3 linked regions of the Homo sapiens genome follow. The protein of the gene in region 3 interacts with the protein of the main gene of each other region in a pairwise test. Each region holds a gene or a part of one and is shown on either strand. Other genes may lie near its edges.

Region 1 (6,975 bases), on a different chromosome or scaffold from region 3:
GGACGTGCCAGTGTTGTACCACACTGCCACCTGCTCTCTGCCTGGGTGAGGCTGGGGTCATGCTGGCTGTTTGGCTCTCAGGGAGCAGAGAGGTCTCCCAGAGGCTGCAGGGAGCACGCCCCTTGAATCACCCCTGTTCCAGATTCTACCTGCAGAGGGCAGTATTGAGCATACACTGATGCTTCCCTACCAAGCCTCAGTTCCTCCAAGCCCTGGGGTGTAGGACTTGGGGTCAGGGAAACATTCGGCCTTCAAACCAACTGGGCCCACGGAGGGCATGCCCTAGCCCTGACACTGCACGGGCCGGTGCAGACATCATGGGGGTACCACGAGTCAGTGCGCGGCAGCTCTATCCTTTCGCCCAGACCCAGCAGCTCCACTCACAGGGCCACATGTTTTTGTTTTTTTGTTTTGTTTTTTTTTTTTGATGGGGTGGGGAGACAGAGTCTCACTCTGTCACCCAGACTGGAGTGCAGTGGCACAATCATAGTTCATTGCAGCCTCCAACTCCTGGGCTCAAGCAATCCTCCTGCCTCAGCCTCCTAAGTAGCTGGGACTACAGGTGTGCACCACCACACCCAGCTAATTTTTTTGTATTTTTAGTAGAGACGGGGTTTTGCCATGTTGGCCAGGCTGGTCTCGAACTCCTGACCTCAGGTGATCCACCCACCTCGGCCTCCCAAAGTGCTGGGATTACAGGCATGAGCCACTGCGCCCGGCCAGGGCTGCATGTCTTTAAGTACGTGACTTTACCCCACTGTAACATGAGGCCAATAGTACCCACCTGGCAGGCTTAGCGCAAGGCTTAGAGAACTTAAATGCAACCAACCCAGCACCTAGGAGATGCTTGACAAGCAGGGGCCAATCACCAGTGTTATCTACCATGGGGGCCACACTGTGGTCCAATGAGAAGCTGCAGGAGGAGGGAAGTGGAGACTCACAGAGGAAAACTGACTTGCTCAAGGTCATGCAGGTGATTAGACAAAGAGGCAGGGGCCAGGTGCGGTGGCTCACACCTGTAATCCCAGCACTTTGGGAGGCCGAGGCGGGCGGATCACGAGGTCAGGAGTTTGAGACCAGCCTGGCCAACATGGTGAAACCCTGTCTATACTAAAGATTAAAAAATAAATTAGCCCAGCGTGGTGGCGCGTGCCTGTGATCCCAGCTACTCGGCAGGCTGAGGCAGGAGAATCGCTTGAAACTGGGAGGCGGAGGTTGCAGTGAGCCGAGATCATGCCATTGCACTCCAGCTTGGGTGACAGGGCAAGGCTCCGTCTCAAAAAAAAAAAAAGAAAAGAAAAAGAGAAAGAGGCAGGGTGGGAGACGACCTGGGTCTCAGAGGGCCACACAGGAGGGTGCCTTGAGATGTCCCAGACCTCCTTACAACAGGAGGGTGGTGAAGGATGGAGGGAGCATTGGTGACTTCATTCCCAACCCTGACATGGCCCAACATCCTCTGTGGGCATGAGGGCCCCTCTGCGCCCTGCCTTGTGCTGGGCACTGCAGATGTGGCCTGCCTGGGAGGAGCTCTCAGTCTGATGGGTTTGTGGGTTTCCTATAGGAGACCTGGTCAGCCAAAGTTAACCCTCACCAAGTTCCTGGTGTGTGTCCAGAAGAGACCCCAGTGTAATTGTCTGACGGGTGTTCCTGCCGCTGCACAGGAAGAATTCACTGAGACCATGGTATTACAGCGAGAAATAGTTTTATGTTTCTTAATTTTTAAAATTTTTTAGACAGTCTTACTCTGTCGCCCAGGCTGGAGTGCAGTGGTGCGATCTTGGCTCACTGCAACCTCCGCCTCCCAGGTTCAAGCGATTCTTATGCCTCAGCCTCCTAAGCAGCTGGGATCACAGGTGCCTGCCACCACGCCCGGCTAATTTTTGTGTTTTTAGTAGAGACAGGGTTTCACCATGTTGGCCAGGCTGATCTTGAATGCCTGACCTCAAGTGATCCACCTGCCTCGGCCTCCCAAAGTGTTAGGATTACAGGCATGAGCCACCGTGCCTGGCCTAATTTTTGAAACACAGTCTCACTCTGTCACCCAGGCTGGAGTGCAGTGGCTGAATCTTGGCTCACTGCAGCCTCCACCTCCTGGGTTCCAGTGATTCTCATGCGTCAGCCTTCTGAGTAGCTGGGATTACAGGCATGCACCACCACACCCGGCTAATTTTTGTATTTTTAGTGACCAGGTTTCGCTGTGTTGGCCATGCTGGTCTTGAACTCCTGACCTCAAGCAATCCACCCACCTTCGCCTCCCAAAGTGCTGGGATTACAGGCATGAGCCACTGAGCCCAGCCAAAAGCGTCTTATTAATGCAGAGCTAGCCAAGCAGTAGGACTGGAGTTATTACTCAAATAAATCTCCCCAAGAACTCAGAGGCTAGGGTTTTTATGGATAATTTGGTGGGCAAGGGCCCAGGGAATGGGTACTGCTGATTGGTTGGAGATGAAATCACAGGGGTGTGGCAAACGGTCCTTATGCACTGAGTCGGTCTCTGAGTGGGGGCCACAGGATGGGCTGAGTCATGAGTCACACAGGTCCAGGTGAGTCAGTCGGTTGCCCGAATGCGAAAGTCTGAAAAACATCTCCAAAGACCAATCTCAGTTTCCACAATAGAGATGCTATCTATAGGAGGAAGTGGGGAACTCACAAATCTTGTGATCTCTCGCCACATGACTCCTGAGCAGTCAGATTATAAAAACGATGCGTAGGTTTTAGCAGCGTCCAGGCCCCTCCCATAATCCTAATCTCACGGCCTTTCGTTAGTTTTACAAAGGTGGTTTTGGTCTCTTGTATAAAAAGCAGGTTAGGTTTAAGGAGTAACTATTATCATCCTTGTTTCAAAGTTGAACTATAAACTAAATTCCTCCCCCGGTTAGCTTGGCCTATGCCCCGGAATGAGTGAAGACAGCCAGCGCGTGAGGCTGGAAGCAAGATGGAGTCAGCCACGCTAAACTTCTGTCACTGTCCTAATCTTTGCAAAGGCAGTTTGGCCAGGAGGCTGTGGGGAGACCTTGTGGGTTTTGCCAGGACCTGGGAGATTCTCGATCTATGTTTGGCTGTCCTTCTAAGCCAGAAGCTCCCTGGGGTTGGGGCCTGCCTGGGGTGAGTCCCTCCCTCCCTGCCATGCCCAGTCTAGCCAAGGTCTAGTTCAGGGATCAGGGCACCACGTGGGGGAAGGACTGTGTTCCTTGTGCTGAATTAGGATTTATGGCTTTGGGGCCGGATGGGAGGCGTGCGCACTGATTCAGTAGGAGCGCTGCTGTGGTGTGTGTGTGGTTGGTGGGAGCGGGGCGGGCGGGGGGCGGGGGGGCTGGTTGGGGGGACAGGGGTAAAAGCCTATCAGAGGGAGGTCCCATCAGACAAGATGGGACCAAGAGTCCAGTTGGCTCTGCTGCGACTTTCGGCCTGTCACTGCCTTCCTGCACATCTCAGGGGTGGGAGGGGGACAAAGGCTGTAAGAGTAAGAGGTACCTGGCCCAAGCCTTAGGACTAGAACCCGGGCCAGGCGGGAGTGACCAGCCGGGACACTCAGGGCCTCCGCGCGTTCCAGCTGGGTGACCTTGACCCTCCAACTTCAGCCCCCTGCGCCCGGCTGCTCTCCCAGTGGTGGTGGGGAGCGGTGGGGGTAGACGGGGGCGCGCCCAGGCTTTTCTAATCCGGCGCTGGTGGGGGAGAACCGAGGGCGCCACCGCCCCTCCCCGCAGGTCCGGGGCCGAGGGGTGCGGCGCGCTCTCCCCACCGCGGTGCCCAGGTCCCCGGGACGCAGGGGCGCTGGGTAGCAAGGGGGGTGCGCAGGGGCGCGGGGCGCGGGGCGGGCTAATCCCGTATGTAAATGGCAGCCAATGGAGGGTGGTGTTGCGCGGGGCTGGGATTAGGGCCGGGGCGAATGGCTGGCAATCTTACTGGGATTACAGAACAAAGAGCCTCCCCGCGCTCCCGCTCTCCGCTCCTCTCCCCGCGCCGCCCCGCCCTCCGCCGCAGCCCGCGCCGGGGGTGGGGGCCGCCGAGCGCCAGCCCCCCGGCCGGCCGATTCCCCCCCCGCGCCCCCTCCCCGCGCCTCCCTCCCCGCCCTCGCCGCGCCGCCGTCCTCGCCTCCCTCTGCCTCTCCTTCCCCCATTCTCCCGGATTAATTAAGGAGGCAGCGGCAGGAGGCTGAGTCCTGGCCGCGGGCCGGGGCCGGGGCGCCGCTGGCAGGAGCGCTTGGGGATCCTCCAAGGTAGGAGAAACTTTTGCGGGGGGCGGGCACCGAGGCCCTTCTCCCCTTCTCCCCCACCCCCGCCCCCGATCCCCTCCGCCTCCGGGGGGGGGGGTCCCCGCCCCTCCCCCTCTCAAGGTGTTACAGGAGCTGGGGCCGGCTTTTGGGTGCCCGGGGAGGCACGTGACTGGGATTATAATTCGGGCCCGGGGGGAGGGGAGGGACGGCCGCCCCCCACCTGCCCGGGAGGGGCCGGGAGCTGGGAGCTGTCACCCCCTCCCTCCTTGCCACCGGCTCTTCTGGAGGTGGGGGGCGTCCCGGGCCGGCGCCCGCAGGCTGCTGCAGTTGGCGAATGAGGTCAGTCGCGCTGCCCGCGGTGGCGGGCGCCGGGGTGGGAGCAGAGGGGGCTGGGAAGGCCGCGGTCCCCGCCTTTCCCCCCTCCACCTTCTCCCGGTCTGGGCCAGCCCCTGGCCCGCGCCCCCAACTCCCAGGCGGAGTCCAGTCCAGCCAGGATTGCCCCAGCAGGGTGGTTCCTGTAGTGGACCCCCCGCCCCGGCCCCGGGGAGGGGGCTGGCCTGTGTGGTGGTGGCCGCTGAATCCCGGGTGGAGGGGACTCAGAAGGTGGCAGTGGGGGGACCACAAAGGGTTCAGAGGAGTAAGTTGGGGATACTCGGTCTGTGGGTGGTCTCTGAGTTCCTGCAGATGGGTGGAGAGGACAGAGGAGGGGCCACAGGGTGCTGAACACCCACCCGCCCCATCCTAAGTACCCTGGGCATGATGGGCTTGACACCTCTCCTGGGCTCCTCACCCCTGGCCAGCAGCCAGGGAGTGAGACCCTGCCTCGCCTGGCGTGGGCCCAGGGAAGGGGGCCGCTGTGCCGCTGAGAGTTCGTTCCACCCTCCTGGCAGTGCTGGAGGGGGCTGGAGCTCTGGCGTCTGGCCTAGTGACCCTACCTCCCAGGACCAAGGTCCTGCGGTGGGAGTCTCCTGTGTCCCCATCCCAGCTGAAGCGAGGGTGCTGGGACATAGGGGTCTCGCTGCAGGGCCTGTGAGGGGAGCACTGACTCTTGGATGGAGAATGTGCCAAGGGGTACCCCGGGATGGCCCTGGGCCTGGCGGGTGGGAGTGGAGGGCAGGCCCCCGCAGTTTTTGGAGAAGTGGGCATTTGCTGGGGTTTCTCTTAGAAGAGGAGAGGGGTGTCTAGAAGCCACCCTGGCGCGCCGCTGCCATGGTCGGCCTCTGTGTGTCTGGCTGCCCCGTGGCCAGGACTGTTGACTCCTTGGCACTGGCCCGGGGCCTTGGGACTTGGAAGGTGCCCCAAGCAGCTCATTTATTTCAGCAGTGTCATTCCAGAGGGGAAGGGCACCAGCATCGATTATTTATTCTAAGCAGGAGGAGGTGGCTGGAGGCTGGTGGCTGCTGGCAGGGAGGGGCTAGGTATAAGGTAGTTAGGTGGCCGTCATGAACCGCCCTATTTGGGGCCCAGGAGGGTGTGAGATAGACTCTGACCTCTTCTGAGCAGGCATCTGCGGACCAAGGGACAGGCTTGGCCCCAAGGTGACAGGGTATCGGAACCCCCATCCTGCCTCTGGGGTGTGGGAGGCTCAAGTCCACACCTCGTTCTTCCACAGCCTGTTCTGAGGGTGACCTAGAAATTGGCAGTTCTAACTCAGAGGGTCCCACAGGACCCCACAGAGGAAACTAGGAAGGAAGGGTTGAAACTCCGCAGCCACTCAGAGCCTGCACTCTTAAAATGTTCGAGAACTTAAGGCCGATGGTTGTAAAACTGGGTCTTGAAGACAGCTTTGTAGGGGGCACGCTAAACCTACTTAAAAGGACTGTTCTCTCGATGTTGGGAGAAGGGTCATTTATTTGCAGTATGCTAATCACAAATAATTTTTATCTGTTCATTGAAGGCAGCCTCCCAGGAGCCCGGCTAGCCTTCTGATGAGGTGGTAGTCGTCAGCACTTGGTGTTTGGCAATAGTCTGAGTGGCAGCTGTAATCTAGGGTCTTGGAGGTAGCTGTTTTTGCAGCCTGCTTGACTCCAGAGGCCAGGCCATCCACGGTTTGGTGACAGCTTGGTTGTTGGACCTGGGGTCTTGTGGATGGTGGGTGATGGCTTGGGACATTCACGTCCTAAGCATGACCTTGGAACCATAGACTGCAGCTCCCAGATGATTCTCATTCAGGGTCTAGTCTCTGACCACTCACTGCTTCCTCAGCCGACTCATAAATCCTGTAGTCTGGCCGGGCGCAGTGGCTCACGCCTGTAATCCCAGCACTTTGGGAGGCCGAGGTGGGTGGATCACGAGGTCAGGAGTTCAAGACCAGCCTGGCCAACATGGTGAAACCCCATCTCTACTAAAAATACAAAAAATTAGCCAGGCGTGGTGGCAGGCATCTGTAATCCCAGCTGCTCGGGAGGCTGAGGCAGGAGAATCGCTTGAACCCGGGAGGTGGAGGTTGCAGTGAGCCAAGACCGCACCACTGTACTCCAGCCTGGGCAACAGAGCAAGACTCCATCTAAAAAAAAAAAAAGAAAAAATTCTGTAGTCTTGCCGTTTTCCTGAATGGCCTGGCTTCCTCCTACCCCTGGCCTCTGCACACACAGTTCCTCTTCTCTCGAAGGTTCTTCTTGGCCTTTCCCCTGAGGAGGCTGGGGGGCTTCCTTTATTAGCCCTGCCTGGCTAGGGTAGGGGGTCAGGATTATAGAATTTGCCTCTTTTCCTCTCCTTCAGGACTTGGCTTGGCTGTGGTATCTTTGGGCTGAAGACTT
Region 2 (4,858 bases), on a different chromosome or scaffold from region 3:
AGAATGCTCCCAACTTTATTCATCTTCCAAGCCTGTAGCTCTTGGTATACTCACTGTTGCAAGTCAGAAGCTTGATTTCATCATTGATGTTTTTCTCACGTTTCACATCTCACTCATCACCAAGTCATGTTGGTGTTAATTTCTGATTAACCCTTGAATTTACCGTCTTCTCATCCTCTGTACAAAAGCCTCAAGTGAGGGTCAAATTCAACATTATCCTGATCTAGACAGCCCCCATTCTCAATCCACCCTTTTCCAAGTTGATTGCCCAAGGACTTCTAACAATAAACTCTCTTTTGCACCACAGACTTCTTTGAAAATATACATGCTGTTGACCCTCTCTGTAGAAAACCGCACACATAAAACTTACCAACAGATTTCATTGGTTCTTGGGTTCTCCCGAAGCCTATCCATGGTTTATAGATTAAGAATTGATGAGGTAGCTGGGCACAGTGGCTCACACCTACGATCACAGCACTTCGGGAGGCTGAAGCAAGCAGATCACTTGAGGTCAGGAGTTTGAGACCAGCCTGGCCAACATGGTGAAACCCTGTCTCTACTAAAAATACAAAAAGTAGCCAGCCGTGATGACAGGCACCTGTAATCCCAGCTACTCGGGAGGCTGAGGCATGAGAATTGCTTGAACCCGGGAGGCGGAGGTTGCAGTGAGCCTAGATCATGCCACTGCACTCCAACCTGGGCAGCAGAGCAAGACTCTGTCTCAAAAGGGGAAAAAAAAAATTGCTGATGTGACCCATGAAGGGAACTCATTTTCCTCGTAATTTTGGACTGCCACACATTGGTACCTTTAGTTCTCTGAAGGCCCACGTTTTTATCATTAAGACCTATTTGTTAGCTAGTAGAGCTTTATGTTCGCTGTCCATGAAACCTTCTGTAACCACAGTGACTACAAGTAGTTCTTTCTCTATTGAATTATTAGGTCCAGAATAGAAGATGTCATTGTACACTTTATTTCCCTCACACTGTGTTATGCTCTGATGTGCTATGCTTAGCTATCTGTCAGAGATTAGTAAATTATAAAACTCATGTGTACTACTTAAGTTTATATCTTATGCTAGTTTATAAGAACAATTAAAAGGACTTAGAAGATTAACTTTGGTTTCATGGTCTCTGAAGTCACTGACTGCTATTTCAGCTTGTTTACCCTTACCTAGCATTAAGACTCCATCTACTTCTGTGCAGTATATGAAAATTTTTAAACTTTCATTTAGACTGGTGGATAGGACTGACCATTACAAATTGTCGTTATCAATTTTTTTTCCTTTTTTTTTTTAAGAGCCAAGTTCTCACTGTCTCCCAGGCTGGAGTGCAGTGGCATGATTATGGCTCCCTGCAGCCTTGAACTCCTGGACTCAAGCTGCAGCCTCTCGAGTAGCTGGGTGCATGTGCTACCACACCCAATTATGAATTTCATCATTAGTTTCTTAGTAGAGTCCACATGTCCTCAGTAGTAAGTTCATCAGTGCTAAATATTTGAAGGTATTTCTACTGTTTTGTAAAAGTAACTTAAGCCTACCTGGTCTGCTATCTTTTGAGTATTTATACTTTCTACGGGCTTGTAGGTAAACATAAAAAGAGAAAAAATATCCCAATAATACAGTTTTTAACCTTTTATGATAAAGACATGCTTAGAATTGCTGTTAAGCTTTCTGAGATTTAACCACTGAAACTAAGTAAAAGACAAAGCACTTAGGTAAAGCTTCATTCAGTATCCATTCACCCAATACTGGTTTGATTCTAGGGCCTAGGAAAATAGGACTGAGCAAAGCCCTTGTCCAGATGGAACTTATGTTTTAGAGGGGAAAACAAACCATAAAAAGGTAAACAGTATAAAATCAGGAAAGGATAAATGTATATGAAGAATCAAAATGAGGACGGTGATGGGGATAAGAGGGGAAGGTTTTTGAGGAGAGCAGAGCAATGATGTAAAAGCAAGACACACAGATAGGGAAATAGCTTTCCATACTAAGGGAATGGGAAATAAAGCTGAGTTTTGCCTTGAGGACCTCCAAACATGAGAATTGCTAGAGCTCTGTGAACAAGGATGAGAGTGGAAGACAATATAAGCAAAGGCTACATCACTTAGGGCCTATAGGCCACACTGAAGTGTGACAGGAAAAACTCAGTTTGAGCAGAGGCTTGACATACTTAACATATTTAAAGGTTCTCTGGCTGTTGTGTGGACAAGAGGAGAAGCAGAGATTAGTTAAGAGGCTATTGTAGCCCAGGTGAGGGATGATGTATGATCTTCAACATGTCTAATTTTTTTGTGCCTCAATTTCATGAAATGAAAATGCGACTAATACCACCTCATAAAGTTGTGAGAATTACATGAGTCAATATATGTAAGGCCCATCATGGCACACAAATGTGTTATGTAATATCCATTTGGCAGACTGAAGAACAACAGTATGAATGGAATTCATTCACCATGAGAATTACCTGGAATTCTCTGGGCATGGTAGCTCATGCCTGTAATCCCAGCACTTTGGGTGGCCGAGGCAGGTGGATCACCTGAGATCAGGAGTTCGAGACCAGCCTGACCAACATGGAGAAACCCAGTCTCTAATAAAAATACAAAACTAGCCGGGCATGGTGGCACATTCCTGTAATCCCAGCGACTCAGGAGGCTGAGGCAGGAGAATCGCTTGAACCTGGGAAGCGGAGGTTGTGGTGAGCCGAGGTTGCGCCATTGTACTCCAGCCTGGGCAACAAGAGCAAAACTCTGTTTCAAAAAAAAAGAAAGAAAGAAAATTACCTGGAATTCAATATTGCCATCGGCTGATTTAATTTCTAATATGAAGAAAGGGGCAGTGTGATGTGCCACGGAGCATCCACAACCTGCCATTTCAGCCCAGCCAACCTTAGAAAGCCATTGAAAAGAGTTGTTTTTAATGGTGTTTTTACATCCAGCTTCCCACACCTCAAATACTTGGGGTGGAATTGTTAATCTCACATTGCAGTACAATGAAAATAGTGGAATGGAAATCAAGTTATAAAATGGAGCTAAATATTTCTTCTGCTTGCCTCTGAGTTGATAAGATACCATAAGATACTGTACATGAGGCTGGGCGCGGTGGCTCACGTCTTATTTCTTCTGCTTGCCTCTGAGTTGACAAGATACCATAAGATACTGTACATGAGGCTGGGTGCAGTGGCTCACGCCTGTAATCCCAGCACTTTGGGAGGGTGAGGTGGGCAGATCACCTGAGGTCGGGAGTTCAAGACCAGCCTGACTGACATGGAGAAACCCCCTCTTTACTAAAAATACAAAATTAGCCAGGCATGGTGGTGCATGCCTATAATTCCAACTACTCGGGAGGCTGAGGCAGGAGAATCGCTTGAACCTGGAAGGCAGAGGTTGTGGTGAGCTGAGATCGAACCATTGCACTCCAGCCTGGGCAACAAGAGCGAAAATCTGTCGCCAAAAAAAAAAAAAAAAAGATACTGTACATGGAAGCTTCTCAGGCTAAATCCATTAATATAAAAATACATTGTGGATACTGATGAGATGGCTAATTCTGTCAACTTGACTAGGCTACGGGATGCCTTGATAGCTGGTCAAACAACATTTCTAGGTACATCTGTGATGGTGTTTCTGGAAGAGACTAGCACTTGAATCAGTAGACTTGAGTAAAGAAGACTGCCTTCACCCATGTGGGTGAGCGTCATCTAATCCATTGAGGGCCTGAATAGAACAAAAAAGGGGAAGAAGGGTGAACTGCTGGGACATCCATTTCGTGCCCCCAGATGTTGGTGCTCCTGGTCCTCAGGCCTTCAGACTAGGACTTAACGTTATTGCCTCCCCTGATTCTCAAGCCCTCGGGTTTGGAACTACACTGGCTTTCCTGGGCCTTCAGCCTGCAGAAGGCAGACTGTGGGACTTCACCTCCATTTTGCAGAGCCAATTTCTCATAATCTGTACATATCCTATTGGTTCTGTATTTTTTAGAGAACAAATACAGCCTATTATGTATATATAAGACCCTGGGAATGCAAAGATGAACAAAATTAACCTTCTGCTCTCAATGAATCTTGGAAGTCTCCAGAGGCAGACAATTTCAAAACACCGTATATAGTCTTAATATGGAATTAACAATAGGGTATTGTGAATACACAAAAGTAGGAAGGACTCTGATCTCTAGAAAACAATTGTATACTGTGAATGAAAAAGACTAATTCTCCACAGTCTATACTCAATCTCTCTTACCTTTCCATAATTTTCTTCAGCAAACTTATTACCACCAAACATAGTACATGTTTATTTATTACCCATCTCTCCCAACTAGAAAATAAATGTATTACACTGGGCTGTCTTCTTTGTTGTCAGCTGTATCACAGCAACTGGTGTAATACACGGCACTGGCATATACAAGACAAACACTTGTCAGATGAATAAAAATGCAAATTCCAGGAGGTAGGGGGACACATAACTACATGGAAGTTAGAGGTGAATAGCATGCAAGGGGGCTAGGAAATAAGTATAGAGACCTATGTGAGTTGGGGAGGTGGCAAGCAGAGGCCAGATCACAAAAGCTCTTACTGCTCTTCTTTGGAGTTCGGATTTTATCGTGAGGGTAGGAAAGTGGCATCAGATACATGCTTTAAGAGATCAGTCTGGTTTTTTTCCCACCATGTGAAAACAGAAGATGCCATCTATGAATCAGAGTGGCCCCTCACCAGACAATCTTTCCATCCTTCACAATGTGAGATGTAAATTTGTTATTTAAAAAAAAAAAAACAAAACACCACTATGGTTTGGAAGATTCCTGTTTCAAAAATGGCAGGTTAAGCCCCATATTTATAGGCTGTTTGCCACAAAACTCCATTAAAATGA
Region 3 (7,884 bases):
ATGAAATGAACTTGGTGTGTTGCAACTATTATTTATTTATTTAAAAAGAAGGGCTAAAACTGTATAGACTAGATTTAAATATACTAGAATGGATAATATTAAAATGCATCTAAGACAGTGAAAGATAATTATTCCATGAATCCTGTGTTTCAGTTATATAGTCATGTACCTAGTAGGCGTTTGTACCGGGTGCTGATGTACAATGCATATCCCAGTGGTTGTCATGGTCAAAAAAAAGTTTATAAGCCACTGATCTAAAATGCATTATTTAGTGCTATGTTTAATTTTTTTTTTTTTTTTTTTTTAGACGGAGTCTCACTCTGTCGCCCAGGCTGGAGTGCGGTGGCACAATCTCGGCTCACTGCAAGCTCCGCCTTCCGGGTTCACGTCATCCTCCTGCCTCAGCCTCCCAAGTAGCTGGGACTACAGGCGCCCACCACCATGCCTGGCTAATTTTTTGTATTTTTAGTAGAGACGGGGTTTCACCGTGGTCTCGATCTCCTGACCTTGTGATCCGCCCGCCTCGGCCTCCCAAAGTGCTGGGATTACAGGCATGAGCCACCGCGCCTGGCCTGTTTAAAATTTTTTAAGATGACATGTTTAAGAGTTAAAATTTAAGAATGAAGAGAAAGCTATCTAGAGAGGCTGTATAATGAGGTGGTTAATAGCATGGATTCTGGAGCCAAGAATCCTAGGGCCAAGGAACTTCACCCTTTCTCCACAACAATAAAGCAAAATTATGGATTTTTGGTTGCTATAATACCAAACATCATTCAGTATAAGCAAATTATAAATGTCAACTTAAAACTAACAATTTTTATTTAAAATTCTTATTTTTGAATCCTATGAGAAGCATCCTACCCAGGAGTACTATGTTTATATATCAATAAGTAATATTAAACTTGTTTCAGTCTTTGTTCCTTCTTTCATAGAAAATTTTCTTCAGTGTTTCCATTGTTAAAATATTGTTGTTTTTTTTTTCTTTTTGAGACAGGGTCTCACTCTTTGCCCAGGCTGGAGTGCAGTGACACAATCTTAGCTCAATACAACCTCTGCCTGCCGGGTTCAAGCAACTCTCCCACCTTAGCCTCCTGAGTAGCTGGGACTACAAGCATGCACCACGCTGCCCGGCTAGTTTTTGTATTTTTTGGTAGAGATGGGGTTTTACCATGTTGGCCAGGATGGTCTCAAACTCCCGATCTCAAGTGATCCACCTGCCTTGGCCTCCCAAAGTGCTGGGATTACAGACATGAGCCACTGCGCCCGGCCCCAAGACTACTTGATTTAGTTACTGCAATTATTATTATTATTATTATTATTATTATTTGGATTATGCGGTAGCATAGTATTGGTGGTAGAGATATCAATATGGTCCTAGTAGAATATTATAATTTTTTTCTAATATTTCATTGAGTCAAGTATGAATGATAAAAACAACTAAAATTTACTGAGGTCTATATTAAGTGAGGTGCAAGGTGCAAGTTTTATACATGTATGCTCGTTTCACCCCCTAAAAAACTCTATGAAAGAGGAATTATTATCTACATTTCACACATGATGAAACGATCAGAGGCTTAGAGAAGCTTACACATGACTAAAAGCATCTAGCTAGTTGCTAGTTGTGGGTAATGCCAGAATTCAGATGGGGGCAGTCTGGCTCTTTAAGCTGTGCTCAGAGTCAGTTTTACTACATCTCAATTAACGGTGAGCTCTTGGTCTTCGAAATGCAATTAAACCTAACACTTTTATATCACTTTCACAGAAGTTACTTGGTCCTTATAACAACTCTTTTTTTTTGAGATGGAGTCTTGCTCTGTTGCCCAGGCTGGAGTGCAGTGGTGCGCTCTCGGCTCACTGCAACCTCCGCCTCCTGGGTTCAAGCGATTCTCCTGCCTCAGCCTCCTGAGTAGCTGGTACTACAGGCGGGTGCCACCATGCCCAGCCACAACAACTGTTTATTACTTTACTTTACAAATAAGGAAATGGACTCAGAGAGAAGGTAAGTTTCTGAGGTTTTGAGTGGCCAGATATTTGAAATACAAGTCTTTTGCTCACGTCTTGCAGCTGCCTCTTGGATGTCTGGTATGCTTTTTGACAGGTACAGAATAGATTAATACACACACACACAGTTTTAGTTGTGGATTTATTGAGATATAATTGACATATCATGCAATTCACACATTTAAGGTATGCTGTTCAGAGGTTTTTAGCACATTCACAGTTGTGCAATCATTTCAGTCAATTTTAGAACACTTGAGTCACTCCATTAAAAAACCTCGTAACTTTTAGCTACCATTTTCTACTCCCCACTTCTCCAGTTCTGGGCAACCAGTAATCTACTTTCTGTCTCTACAGATTTGCCTATTATAGACATTTCTCGTAAATGGAATAAAATATTCAGTGGTCTTTTGTGTCTTGTTTATTCACTTAGCATAATGTCTTTAAGGTTTGTCCATGTTGTAGTGTATATCAGAACTTCACTCCTCTTTAGGTCTGAATAATATTCCATTGTATGGATGTACCACATTTTGTTTATCCATTCATCAGTTGATGGACATTTCAGGGATGTTGGAAATTATGAATAATGCTGTTATGAACATTCAAACATTTATTTTTAAAATTACTTTTATGTAAAATTGTCTGCTTTTTAACATTATGACAAATACTTTCTTCCCAGTTCTAAATTCTCAACGAAAAATTCTCCCTGATATCAGACCAGCAAACCAATGAACAGTTGCATGGACAGATGTACCTGAATGAATTTAAAAAGTAAATAATAAATACTATAATTAGCACAGTTGCTCATTAGTTATATAAAACAGCAATAACACTAGGGAATTAGTAGCAGTATAGAGCTCCAACTGAACAGTACGTGGCAACCCAATCTATCATTTATCACAGAGCTTATTTGGAAGTATTAGTCTACTTTAGTCTTCTAAATGTAAATTCAATGAGCTGAAGCTACTTCAATAGGACCTGGCAGCAGAAAAGGAATGATGTAAGTTTTCACCAAATTATTACAATTTGGTAGTAGAGGATGTTTGTTTTGATGATAGTGGCTGTTTTTGTTGTGATGTTTCTGTTGTGATGATAGTTTTTCAGTCTAAACCAGTACTGTGTAATATGAAATCTTAAGAGGCTATTTTAGTGTATTTAAAACTAAAAAATTTTAGTTACAAAGTTTCCTAAAAATTAGTGATACTTTTTGAAAAGCTGGTTCAAGTACATTTTATTAATTTTTTTCAATAAAAGAGAACAGTGTATTCAAGGTATTTAGTACAAGGTGGAAAGCCTACTTGATTTATTTTTTTTAATGAGTGAATGAATTCAACTTCTACTAGATTATCCTCTGTAAGTTGCGTCTATTAGTTTACACATCAGTCTTTCACGGGTGATTAACCTCACTAAAAACTTCATGTTCATCAATATTGTGTTGAACTTGAAACTGTATTATCATATATGTTTATTAATAGGCAATGGTGTCAGATAATCGTGAAATTGAGAAGTCGCCCATCCATTTGGGTGGGAAAATAACCAACATCCTCAGTTGTAATCCCACTAAGAACCGCCAGGGCGAGACGAAAGCGACATCGCTTCCATCTTTACGTGAGTCTTGGAAATGGTTCAGCACCATGACGTCCGCCGAAGACGTAGGTGTAGACGAGGAACAAAAGAGAAGACCCCTCGTGGAGGTGGCCTGTGGGGCCCGCCCTCCTCGGGCGCCTGTCGTCGTCTGTCCCTGACTCCGCTCCCCCCGGCGGCCGCAGCGAGTGCGCCCCGCGATGCAGCGGGCTGTGGAGGGAGCCTCCATGGAGTCTCCATCAACCATTGAGGACCAGGAGACGGTGGCAGGCGGTAGAGAGGCCTGGGCAGGGCCAGCGCCCCGGGCTGCGGAGCACAGGACGGCGGCGCCCAAGGACGCCCCAGGGCAGGCCTCAGCCCCTCCAACCGGTGGGAGCCCAGCTCCAGGGGAGCCCGCAGCTCCCTCCATCTTGGTTGATGGAGGCGGGGAGCTGCGTCTGGGTCTCTCCACCGTCGTGCCCGTCCCCTGTGGCCCCGCGGACGCAGACGCCAGCAGCCGGGGTTGTTCCCTTGGCCGAATGGCAGAGTCCAGTTGGGGCTTCCCGAGGACAAGTTTCCCGGCCCCACGGGGTTTGGTTTTTAGGGGGTCCCAAGTTCCCACAGTCGTTCCGACAAAATGGAGGACGTCGTCTCCTCCTGCTGCAGCCATGGCGGGAGGTGGGGGACTATTCCCCACGGGGCGCGGCGAGGGTGGAAGGGCCTCCACTGCCCCCAGCGCGGTCGGGATTCCAGTTCACCCGCGGTCCCGAAAGCCCACTCGGACCCGCTCCAGCGCCTCCCCGGCCTCGCCCCTCGCAGGGGCCTTCAAGCAACTGGACAGGGAGGGCGTTGGGGCATCGAGGCCGCGGCTCTCCTCGGGCAGAGGCGTTGGGAGCCGCTGCCGCGGCCTGGGCGCCCGGGCTCGGGCGAGGGCAGGCGGCCCCGCCGGAGTCTCCCGGGCTGTGTAGGTCCCGGAGAGCCCCGGGCCCCGAGGAGCCGAAGCGGGTTCGGTACGGCGGGCAGCGAATCTCGGGCTCCTGACCCTGGCAGACCCGGTGGGTGGGGGCGGGGGACCGGCGGGGAGGGGACCCGGCCAGGAGTCGAGGGCCGGCGGAGGCGGGAGTGGAACGGCAGGGCCGGGGGAGTGGCCCGCACCTGACGGACAGCCCTTCGGACCACCCTACCGAGGGGGGGCCCTGAAGGACGGCCGTCGGAGCCAATGGGCGTGCCCGAAGCGCTCCGGCCAGCCTTCCCCGTCAGCCAATGAGCGCGCGGAGGGCGGGGCCTCCCCGGGCTCGGCCGCGCCGCCGCCTCCTCCGCCTCCTCCTCCTCACCAGCGCTAAAGCCGGGACTGGACCGAGCGGAGTTGTGCGTGTCGCCGAAGGGGGGTGGGCCGGGGGAGGGGAGGTTCGTTCCGCGGAGCCCCAGCCAGAACCGGGTGAGGCTTATCCCCGCTGTCTTTCCAGTCCAGGGCCGCCGAGAGTGGGGGTGGCTGGGAGCAGCGCAGCCTCCGGAGGAGGAGGCGGAGGCGGAGGCGACTAGGGAGGCGGAGATGGGTGAGGGCAGCCTCCGGAGCCTCCCACCGACCCGGGATTAATACCCCGCGGCGCGGCCGCCGTCGCCGCTGCCGCGTCGGGGCCTCGGGGGCAGCTCGGGGCTGCGCTCATGTCACAGGCGCCTTTGCGTGCGGCCCGAGGGGCTGGGAGAGTGCGGGCGAGGCCGGGAGGGCTGGGTGAGGCGGCCGCCAGCGGCGGGGGTCGCGGGGCCGGCGGGGCGGCGGGACGGCGGGACGGCGGGGCGGGGGTGCCGGCCGCCCGGGGAGGTCGCGGGGCATTTTCCTTTCTCTCCGGCGGGGGGCGGGGGAGGGGCGCCCCGGCTGGGTCTCCGCTCTCGGGGCAGCGCTCCCACCCTGTCCACCGGAGCCGAGGTCCCCAAGTTTTTCGGGGTGAGGGCTGCTGCCTCTGCTCCGCCGGGTCCCCTCCTTCGCTCTTCTTTTCCTCGGCGCTGCGCTGCGCGGCTCTTGCTCCGCACGTATTGTTTGGCTGGGTCTCTAATGGCGGACGGGGAGGCAGCGCTGCCGGTCGCCGACTGCAGGGGGGGGCAAACCTCAGGCCCAGGGCAACTGCTTGGGGCAAATGTGGGCGATATCGGCCCAGCAGTGACGTGAGCCGCCCCTTACCTCTGAATTGGTACTTGGAGTGACGGGGATGACGCTGGGTGGGCAAATTTAGGAGGGAATACAAATCCCTTGCTGGCGTCGAGGCAACGTTTTCCCTTCCCCCCTCCCTTCCCGGGAGCAGGCTCGGTGTCCTTAGGCCCCCTCCCTTCCAGATTTTGCCTTTCACATGGGTTTTGGCCCCAAATATGTATTTTGCGCTGTTTTGCCCCACTTACGCAGGAGGGGGCTGTTGTGCGCATGGTGGGGGTAATAATAGAAGGACCGAACCTCCTTGACCTCTTATTCCCTTCTCTGCCTCCTTCTGGCAGAAAGGGTTGGGTTCTCCCACCAGGTTGTGTGTTTTTGATACATTTTTCTTTTTTCCTCCTATCCCAGGACCAAGAATCGCCTTCAGCCCTGTCTGGTGCATCCTTGGCAGAAAGTGAGGAGGAAAACACCCCCATTGTGAGTCCTTTGCCCCTAATTTGTTGCTAATAGAGGACATTGTCAGGTTGTAGGGGTTAAGCTATGGGACCTGGCCCTCCCCGTTGTTTTGAGGGGGAGGAGCTTTCCCTTGGGTGGCAGCTGCCCCCAGGGCGAAGCCTGGGTAATGGCTGGTGAGGCAGCTGGGAGTGGGCGCTGCTGTTTCCACCGCTGCAGACATCGCTCCTGCTGCTGCAATACCAACCTCAGCAACCAGACGACGGGCTTCTGCAGCTGCTCACGTTACCCGGGAGGAGGGGTGGTGCGAAGGAGGGCATATTTCTGGTGCCCTCTAGAGTTCCAAAATGGGAATTAAAGTTATTTCTTGTTGAATGCTGTGCATGCAACCTGAACATTTTTTCTTCCTTAAACAATGGCTAATTGATTGAAGGAATTGGAAACATAGAAATAATCATTTATATTTTTGTTTATGTCTGCTGGAAACACATATTTTGACACTTATGGCTCATGAGTTGCTAGATCTTTTTCATGTATTTGCTTAGGAAAGGGAGTCAACTCCTCTAGTACTATCTTGTTCACCAAGTAGTATGCTGATCAGTCCAGTGTACTGATCTAGTTAATTTCTTCGTTCCCCATCTTCCATGTTGATCATCTTTAACTTAACGATCATTTTTGAATGTGTTACCAGAGAATTATTTAATTTGTTGGTTTTAAGGCAACTATGTAATGTGCTAGAGAGGAAGATGAAGATAGCCAGTCATATTTTCCTTCAGGCAATTGAAACTAAAAGTATCTGAAGTCAGCACTCTGGACACATTATGTCTCTGGAGCCCATTGACAGTTGATGTGGTAACTTGTAGATCTCTGTCAGAGTCAGAGATGAGTTATTTACGCTTAAGTATTCAGTCCACATGGTTCAAAAAATAGTGAATTGATAAGCATTTGCTGAATATACATTGTGAAGGATGATGTGAGAATAGTAACTTACATTAAATATACACCGTTCTAGGCACAGTCCAGGACACTTTCCTTTAATCTTAGCAAGTAGCCCACAGGGTAATACCTATGGCGTGTATTGAGCCCTTATTGTATGCTAGCCCAATTCTAAGGTTTTTTTTTTTTTTTTAAGTTTATTATGGAAACTTTAAATTTTACTAGTAAGAATAGTGTACTGAACCTCCATGTACCCATCATTCACATTCTAAAATTATCAATACGTGCCCACACTAGTTTTTAACATGTGTTAAGTAATTTAATTATCACGAAAACCCAGTGATGTTGATAACCACAGTTATCAATTAGATTTTTATACTGCCTTGTTTCAAAACTAACGGGCTGTTTGGATCAGAATTAACATAGTCTCTTTTTCAATATGTCTGTACAATTTACAGTCTGTAATTGTTTTCTAAATATTGCTAACTTGAATGAATATAACATCTCTAATGAGTTTGAAGTTCATCTCAGGCATCAGATCATTCAATAATGAATCAAGGGTTAGATCTTTCAAATAGATGGATGATGCTTATCGCCACATATTTTCACAAAAGATTTATCTTTCTAGGATTTTTTTTCTTTGTTCTTAGTTATGTTGATAGGGGAAGCTTGATAATTGGTTGTGTTTAGTAGATATTTGGAGATGAGGAACATAAAAAATGCAAAATCAGTACTTTTCTGTAATGTCAACATATGTATACTAACGGAAAGCAGTGCTGCTTTTACGT

Evidence for each region. The genes of interacting proteins can lie anywhere in the genome.
Region 1: the proteins of ZMYM2 (region 3) and GTF2IRD1 interact in binary tests that used the Homo sapiens proteins (3 or more experiments, as listed by UniProt).
Region 2: the proteins of ZMYM2 (region 3) and PAICS interact in binary tests that used the Homo sapiens proteins (3 or more experiments, as listed by UniProt).

The regions. Positions count from the first base shown.
Region 1 is NC_000007.14:74,449,958-74,456,932, forward strand, and holds the start of GTF2IRD1 (general transcription factor II-I repeat domain-containing protein 1), read left to right. Parts: upstream 1-3,948; 5' UTR 3,949-4,219; intron 4,220-4,421; exon of another isoform or gene 4,422-4,555; intron 4,556-4,564; exon of another isoform or gene 4,565-4,853; intron 4,854-6,975. UniProt on the Homo sapiens protein: May be a transcription regulator involved in cell-cycle progression and skeletal muscle differentiation. May repress GTF2I transcriptional functions, by preventing its nuclear residency, or by inhibiting its transcriptional activation.
Region 2 is NC_000004.12:56,460,248-56,465,105, forward strand, and holds the end of PAICS (bifunctional phosphoribosylaminoimidazole carboxylase/phosphoribosylaminoimidazole succinocarboxamide synthetase), read left to right. Parts: 3' UTR 1-4,331; downstream 4,332-4,858. UniProt on the Homo sapiens protein: Bifunctional phosphoribosylaminoimidazole carboxylase and phosphoribosylaminoimidazole succinocarboxamide synthetase catalyzing two reactions of the de novo purine biosynthetic pathway.
Region 3 is NC_000013.11:19,953,843-19,961,726, forward strand, and holds the start of ZMYM2 (zinc finger MYM-type protein 2), read left to right. Parts: upstream 1-4,884; 5' UTR 4,885-4,999; exon of another isoform or gene 5,000-5,117; intron 5,118-5,181; exon of another isoform or gene 5,182-5,293; intron 5,294-5,408; exon of another isoform or gene 5,409-5,750; intron 5,751-6,115; coding exon of another isoform or gene 6,116-6,184; intron 6,185-7,884. UniProt on the Homo sapiens protein: Involved in the negative regulation of transcription.